Linked DNA regions of Homo sapiens: region 2 is linked to region 1. Evidence: fine-mapped expression QTL. Tissue or cell type: whole blood. Region 1 holds a variant in brackets; the other region holds the start of a gene. All regions are shown on one strand. Distances are between the middles of the regions.

What was found. PIP is the estimated chance that this variant, and not a neighbour inherited with it, causes the effect.
Region 2: it holds the start of MTRF1, and the variant in region 1 is fine-mapped to the expression of MTRF1 in whole blood (TOPMed, PIP above 0.99).

Annotation. Positions count from the first base shown.
Region 1 is chr13:41,240,213-41,244,616 of GRCh38, reverse strand. MTRF1 (mitochondrial translation release factor 1) reads left to right here. Exons shown (of 10, transcript NM_004294.4): 6 at 4,184-4,356. Among named protein-coding and RNA genes, the nearest start is that of MTRF1, 21 kb to the left of the region's middle. The variant C/T (reference allele first, on the strand shown) is at 2,490.
Region 2 is chr13:41,261,125-41,265,528 of GRCh38, reverse strand. It overlaps MTRF1 (mitochondrial translation release factor 1), which reads left to right and starts at 1,953. Exons shown (of 10, transcript NM_004294.4): 1 at 1,953-2,044. RefSeq lists a silencer at 1,658-1,747 and an enhancer at 2,035-2,535.

The sequences.
Region 1 (4,404 bases):
AGGTGACATAGTATCACCTCTGTCATACCATATGCTATTGATCATACAGACCAGCTGGGAGGGAACTGTAAGGGTATGAATACCAGCAGGCAGGGATCCTGGGGGGCCACCCTTGAGGCTGCCTGTGACAAATACTAACATCTATATTTCCAGAGAACTCTTCTGAAATAGAAATAAAAGATTTGAAACCATGTGCACATCTGAAAATACCCAGCTAGAACGACCAACACTAAGACATAGGCTAATAAAATGTTTGGACTTACAAAAAAGGGAAAAGACCCATTAGGCACGTAGAAACAAAGACCTTGAGACTTATAAGGCAAGGATTAGATTTCCTTCAGACTTTTCAGTAACAACACTTTGTGCCAGAGAGAGAGTTCACTGAAAGAAAGAAAGTTGAGTTAAGGATTTTATAATAAGCAAAACTGACTTATAAATGTGAAGGGAACAATTTGTTATCATTATGCAAGAATTCAAGAAATACTCTTCCCATGATCCCTTTCTGAGGAATCTACTAGAAAACAAGCTTCAGACAACTGAAATGAGAGATAGCAAAATAAGGAGTAGGGGTGAACATTAAATATGCAGTTACCTGAAGAACTGGGACTAATTGAGGGCTAAGGGGAATAAATTTGTTACATAAGGACTGTATGATCTGACAGTATAGATATAGTACAATCATTTGAAAAATGGGAGGCAAATGGCAAGAGCATATGCAAAAAAGTTTTAATGTTTTTAGTAATTGTATTGGTAGAACTAGTATTAGTATTCTGAGACTGTTAGGTGTGTAGTGTAATATAAAAACAGATAAGTAATTTTGGGATATTTTAATTCTAATGCCCTCTCTTTGAGAACCAAGATTCTTGGTATGGGAAGAAATACAATAAAAGTGTGGTAGAAAAGAGGTTGAAGTTGAATTTAAATTGGAAGTGTCAGTTGTAAAAACTCTGAAAGGTCTGAGATTTTACCCTACTTGCAAGCTAACAAGTTAGCCTGCTGCTGTTTCATGGGTCAGCAGTGAAGGACAGTTTATTACTCAGGGTTATAGCAGTAGCCAGAGTATTAGCATTTTTGTGCCAGTTCCCTGAGCCCAGAGTCCCACAGGGCAACAACTAAGAAGACCAGATGATACCTGCCCACACAGTAGGTTGCATTATAGGAGAAGAGCACTGAACTTAAGGAAATTGAGTCTTTTTTTTTTTTTTTTTTTTTGAGACAGGGTCTCACTCTGTCTCCCAGGCTGGAGGGCAATGGCACCATCACAGCTCGCTGCAGCCTCAACTGGGCTCAAGCCATCTTCTCATGTCAGCCTCCCAAGTAGCTGGGACTACAGACACGTGCCACCACACCTGGCTAATTTTTTTATTTTTATTTTTTTTAATTTTATTTATTTATTTTGAGATGGAGTCTTGCTCTGTCATCCAGGCTGGAGTGCAGTGGCACGATCTTGGCTCACTGCGACCTCCGCCTCTCAGGTTCAAGCGATTCTTCTGCCTCAGCATCCTAAGTAGCTGGGATGACAGGTGCGCGCCACCACGCCCAGCTAATTATTGTATTTTTAGTAGAGACATGGTTTCATCATATTGGTCAGGCTGGTCTCGAACTCCTGACCTTGTGATCTGCCCGCCTCGGCCTCCCAAAGTGCTGGGACTACAGGTGTGAGCCACAGCGCCTGACCATAATTTTTGTATTTTTTGTAGAGATGGAGTTTGACTGTGTTGCCCAGGATGGTCTTGAACTCCTGGGCTCCCGCTGTCTGCCCCCCTCAGCTTTGCACAGTGCCAGGATTACAGGCATGAACCACTGCGCCCAGCCATTTTTTTTAATGCGCAGTAAGCATGCTGCACATTGCTCTAGAAAGAGACACTATCTCTGTCTTCCAAGGCTGTGGAAACTTGTCCTTTGCTCTGGAGGGACACATTATTTCCAAGGCTGTTCACTACACAAACCGCCTTTAAAAGATATTTTAGAGCGAAATAGCCAGCAATGCTTCATTTGTAAGATGTGCAGGAACACAGGAGACCCATGGAAAATTGGGTCTCAACATCATATGAACTCATGAGGTATTTCCTATTTCTGGCCACTGAAAAGGCTTAGAAATTATAACCAAATCCAGTAGTAGTGGACAACCCTAGCCCCCAAATTGTGATTTTCAAATACTATTTTTCTCTTGAACCAGGGCTTTTTGGAGACATGGCTGATTCCAGGTCTAGGGTAAAAAATGTTCAAGATAATCCTGGAATATCTTGTTATGCCATACAAATGGGGCATGTCCCATACAAATGGGGCATGTCAGAAGAATTCAGAAGTCAATTTGAAGAGGCTCTATGGGCCAACGATGGGACTAGTTGAGCTTTAATAATAATTGTGCTTGATTTAAACGTGCTAGATGTGTTTCAATCCTTGAGTTCATAATGATAATTTAAACTTTTAATTGGTCATCTTCAGAGGATTAAAATGAACCAGTTCAGTATATTACAAAAAAAAAA[C/T]GTTGGTATCTTGGTAGAACTGATAAAAGGGACAGAATCAAACATTTATCTTGCTTTTCCTATGTAATTGTATCACCATGTAATCAAATGGTAGACAAGGGGAAGTGTCTCTTTATTAGTGTATTTTAACTAATAAGTGAGAAAGGAATGATAGAATTAGACTTATCACCATTTTGTAACCCCAGTGATGCATTCAGTGTCAAAGCCTGTCAAGACTGTAAAAAGAGAGACATCCAGACACCGTATACCTCCTGTCGTCTTGCCAAAGGGCTCGAGCTGGTGTCTGATCCAGTGTCTGCATCCAGCTGCCTAATTGCTGCCGATACAGAGGGCAGCAGAACAGGGTGACTTGCACCAAGAATATGCAGTCTGCAAAAACAGACTGTTGGAAATTCTACAGGTCAGCAGCCCAAGTTCTTCACCAGATCATTTGTAGGAAATGAAAGCAATGGATGATGAGCATGTGGACTAATAGACTAAAAAGATACATCAAACATTTTTAAATGGGCAGGACTAAACTGTAGCGCCTAGGGCTACACGTTTAGGTAATGAAGTTATGATAAAGAAAGGAATAAAAGTCAGGATAATGATTACTCATAGGGAAGAGAGAGGATTATGTCTGGAAATGGCATTTGGGAGGGCTTATGAAGTGACTAGCACCGTTCTTTTTCTTGACCTGAGTGGTGGACTCTAAACCACATATTTGATTTGTGTGTTTTTCTGTCTTTCATATATTATTGTATCATAAAAAAGATTTTTAAAAAAACATTAGATAAGAACAAGTGGCCGGGCATGGTGGCTCACGCTTGTAATCCCAGCACTTTGGGACCCCAACGCAGGCAGATCATGAGGTCAGGAGTTCGAGGCCATCCTGGCCAACATAGTGAAACCCCGCCTCTACTAAAAATACAAAAAATTAGCCGGACGTGGTGGTGGGTGCCTGTAATCCTAGCCACTCAAGAGAACGAGGCAGGAGAATCACTTGAACCCAGGAGGCAGAGGTTGTAGCGAGCCGAGATTGCACCACTGCACACCAGCCCCAGTGACAGTGCAAGACTCTGTCTCAACAACAACAAAAAAAGAACAAGCTAGCCTAGGTGTTAAGATTCTTTGTGATACTCTTCCCACTCCATAGATAAGCAAGAGCTGACTTTCAATAAATTCTTGAAAATTTGGGAGGATCTGTAGAGTTATTCAACAGTATGAAATTATTCTCCTATTGAGCATTCTTTTATATATGATACCCTATTAGCCTAAGACTACACAGGGTAGTTCAATACAGAAAACATCCCAGTATTATTTTTTTGTTCTAATAGTAGTTTTCCCTTATTATAAAAATAAAACTTGTTCATTATAGAAAATTTGGAAATAAAAAAAGTATTATTCTATTCCCCAGACATAACGAAATAATATTTTGGTATGTTTCCTATTGTTGCATCACTAGCTCCTATAATTAATTACATTTTGGTATGTTTCCTTTTGTATTTTAATACATTTACATTGGAAAACTGTAGTTTTGTGCATACTTTATGTCCTCTTTTCTTCTTCTTCTTCAGAGGCCCTCGTTCTCCCATGCTTTATGTTCTCATCTTAGGCTCTGTACTCAACATTCAGGCCTTAGATTAAGGACATTTAGGATCCTGATCTGTTTCAAAGGATAATTCATTACTATTTCTGGATTGTTGTTCCCCTAGGTGGACTACATCATGCAGCCGCCCGAATTTCCGGTGACGGTGTCTATAAGCATTTGAAGTATGAGGGTGGGATTCACCGAGTTCAGCGCATCCCCGAGGTGGGCCTGTCCTCAAGGATGCAGCGCATTCACACAGGAACGATGTCGGTTATTGTCCTTCCTCAGCCAGATGAGGTAACCTCAGGAGGAGGCAAGGGAAACTCACTCCATGTCAACGGGTAT
Region 2 (4,404 bases), 21 kb before region 1:
TTAGGGCTTCAATATATGAATTTTAAAAATAAATATTAGTAATATGCACATGATTATGAATATAAACAATTCAGTCCATAGCAGTAAGACTACTTTTTTTTTTTTTTGAGACGGAGTTTCACTCTTGTTGCCCAGGCTGGAGTGCAATGGTGCAATCTTGGCTCACTGCCACCTCTGTCTCCTGGGTTCAAGCGATTCTCCTGCCTCAGCCTCCGAGTAGCTAGGATTACAAGCATGAGCCACCACGCCCAGCTAATTTTGTATTTTTAGTAGAGATGGGGTTTCTCCATGTTGGTCAGGCTGGTTTCGAACTCCTGACCTCAGGTGATCCACCTGGCTCGGCCTCCCAAAGTGCTAGGATTACAGGCGTGAACCACCACGCCCGACTAAGACTAATTTTTTAAGGAGAATAAAGCTTTATATATAATACTCAAGTTATATAGCTGAAAGCACAAATCAGAATAAATAATTAAAGAACTTTTTGGATAACTTAGGAGAATGACTTTATGTAGACCCTTTGAAACTTTTCCCCTACTGGAACATAAGCTCCATGTGGGCAAAGGTTTTTGTCTTTTCTGTTCATTGCTAAATCCTCATGACTAGAATAGTGAATAGCACATAACTGGTGTTCACTATTTATTGAATACATGATTGAAGGTTTTTTCTTTTTTGGAGCAGGGTGGCCCTATATCAGAGCTTAGGAGCCACAGATCATTAAAGCCATTGCCTTAATTGAGTCTTGGCTCTATCACTTACTGTTTTTTACCTTGGAGTAGTTACTTTAGCTCTGTGTGCCTTAATTTTCTCCTCTGCAAAATAAGTATTTTAAGGTTGTAAAAATTAAATGAATTAATAGGGTAAAACCATTTAGAACAGTATTTAGTACATAGTACATAGAAGTAGGTACCTTGAAGTTGGCTATAAACGTTAGATATTATTTTGCATATATAGCTAATTCTCCTATCTATGTATGTGATTATAATCTAAGAAAATACTCTGTAAAGTCAGTAATATGGTACATTTTTTGCCTTTTCTTTCAGGAAGAAAAATTGAGGCATGGAGATAGAAAGACTGTAAATTGCGATAGCCAAGGGCTGGATCCCACTGGATTAGTCAAAGTAGGACAATATGCTTGCATTTTCCTGCAATTGTTTATTAACTGGAGTTTTCATTCTTCACTTAATCAGTGGTTCATAAGCTATGAATCTAGGTTGAGCCCCTACATTCCCATGTGCAAAGAACATTATAAAATCACTAACATGTGGAAATACACGGTCTCCTAACTTTTGGGGCTGTTACTACTTTTAAAATATAAATTTATTTGTATTATCCTTTAGTCATTAGGTATTTTCTGAAGCAATGGAAGCTGAAAGTATAGAAATTACACGCAGAATCTTCTACATTTGTGGATGATGTAAAAGGAGTCTTTATTTTTTTTAAATATTGGAAAACAGTGCTTTACGGGCTTCTAATACATAAGGAAATTATTGTAATTTCACATGCAATGTGTTCTAAATCTTGATCTCTTAATCAGAATCGTAAAGAATCTCTCTTCTAGGTTTGCAGTTAACGGTGAAAACCAAAAACTCCACATTTGGCTGGATAGTGAGTGGAGGGGGTTGGAGGCTGCCGCAAGGTAAACTACAACTCCCAGGATTCTTTGGTGGGCGCTCTGGGAGTTGTAGTTTAGTCCCACCTTGGCCCCTCCCTCCCTCCCTCCCTCCCACCATCTCCATCCCCGCTCTGGGCTCACGCTCTGGATAAGGACGGCGCGGGGGCGGTTGTCTGATGACAATTTCATTCTCGTTTTGTCATTTTTCTCATTTAGCTCATTTTTGTCATTTTAGTCCATTGTTAGGCATGCTCGAGGACAACTCCTCCGGAGAGCGGTAGTGGCGGAGGAGGGGCCGGGAGCGTGCGTTAACCCGGAAGAAGTGAACCAGGAAGTGAACGTGATCTCGGGTTTGTCGGGCTGAAATGTGGCGGGTCTCGGAAGGTTCCGACCTCAGTAAAGAGAGCTAACGTGTATTCTTCTTTTTCTTAGGTACTCACAGTTCTTTCCTGATCTTCCCCGCCGCCTCCTGTATTGCCTCTTTATGGAATCACTCCATATACTGAGTTACACAGCATGGTTTGCCCGTGCTGCTGCCCCGCGGGCTGTCGCTTCTGACCTGCCTACACTCAGAACTTTCCCCAAAGCATCAGAGTAATACTGTTACTGTGATGGGTAATGGAGAAGTCGTGCTGTTCTCAGGTGTAGTTAACCTTGGAGAGTAAACATCTTGTTTTGTTTTGTTTTCCTTAATGTTGAGATTCATGACCTTGAAAATTATGCATTCTACTACTGTTCCTAAAATGGAAATTTTAGCAATAAGTATTCGTACAAACATATATTTGTCATCCTTTTATTCTGTCTGTTAGCAAATGGATACACTTTCTCTAACGTGCTTGAAATACGGGGGTGGTGGAGTGTAACGTTTGTGACAGCTGGCCATTGGTGCTTTCTTCAACAGTTCTTTTAATAATGTGATGCAGTATCCTAAAATCTATCAGTAGAACTCTGGAAACTGAATATTTTAAAGACCATTCTGACTATTTTATTTCCTAGGTGATAATGCTAAGTTAACAGACTTATAGTGAACAAATGAGCTAATATATCAATGCACCTCCTAGCATAGTAGGATCACTGGAGACAGTAAAGTTTGATTTTGATAAATGTTGATCCTTCTTTTTTTGAGTTGAGTCTCACTGTGTTGCCCAGGCTGGCCTTGAACTCCTTGGCTCAAGTGATCCTCCTGCCTCAGTCTCCTGGGTAGCTGGGACAATAGGTGCATGCTACTGTGCGTGGCTTGACCCTTATTTCAACTTTGAACCTTAGAGTTTTCTTAGAACACTTTATATTCTCCCTTTCTTACTCAGTAAGACCATTGTGTACTTTTGTTAGCTCTTGATTATCTCTGTTGGAGGGGAGGAGAACAGAAAATTATTGTACACAGCCAATTTCACCTAACCTGTAATTTTTTAAACTAATCTTTTTTTATGATTAGGAAAGTATTCCATGCTACATGTGCAAGAAACTTGGAAAACACTGAAAAGTAGAAAAAATAGCAAGCAAAAGGTATTCATAATCTCACAACTAGAGATCATTTTATTAACATTTTGGTATGTTTCTTTTTTTTTTTTTTTTTTTGAGACAGCGTGTTGCTTTGTCGCCCACGCTGGTTGCAGTGGTGCGATCTCAGTTCACTGCAACCTTCGCCTCCCAGGTTCAAGCGATTATCCTGCCTCAGCTTCCCGAGCAGCTAGGACTACAGGTGTGTGCCATCACGCTCAGCTAATTTTTTTGGTATTTTTAGTAGAGATGGGGTTTTCCCATGTTGGCCAGGCTGGTCTCGAACTCCTGACCTCAGATGATCTGCCCGCCTCGGCCTCCCAAAGTGGTAGGATTACAGGCGTGAGCCACTGTGCTCGGCACATTTTGGTATGTTTCTTATTTAACTTTCTTTTTAAAAAATACTCTATGTGCTTTTTTTTTTTTACATGTATACCTTATATTGTAGAATATTTTTTAAATGTAATTGAGATTCTATTTTGTTCCTTGCCTTTCTTGCTTAATATAATTGTCACCATTTAATATAACTGTAGAGCTTTTCACCAGCCCTACTTTCTTGGTCTATTAATACTTGAACTTTTCTTCCTTTAGGATCTCAGCTAAACGGGAAGCATTTTTGAAAAGTGATTGCACAATTGAGAGTGAAAATTACTGAGTCCTGAACAGGCAACTTACATTCTAATACCAGCTCTGTCTCCATCCAGCCGACTGAATAGTCGTGATTAAGTTACTTGACTTCCTTGGATATCTAGATCCTTAAAGTTAAAGAATTATACAAGATAATAATATTTTCTTCAAACTTTAGAAAATGACTTTATGAACCGCCTTAAGTTTGTATGTTTTCATAGCTTTCAAGAGCTTGTTTACACACTCAATTCTAGATTCTAGATACTTTCTAGAAAATAACTGACTTAACTCATTCAATTGATATATTTGTTAGTTGTACTCCTACTCATATGCTTCAGTTAATTATATATGTTGAACAGGTAGGAAGCAGTGCTGTTTTTATTTATTTTAATATGTTATTCATACATTTGAAGAATTATGTTCTTTCTGTAGGCAGCTGAATTTTTTTTTTTTTTGAGACGAAGTCTTGGTATTGTCCCCCTTGCTGGAGTGCAATGGCATGATCTCGGCTCACTGCAACCTCTGCCTCCTGGGTTCAGGCAATTCTCCTGCCTCAGACTCCTGAGTAGCTGGGATTACAGGCGCCTGCCACCACGCCCGGATAATTTTTGTATTTTTAGTAGAGACAGTGTTTCACTATGTTGGCTGGGCTGGTCTCGAACTCC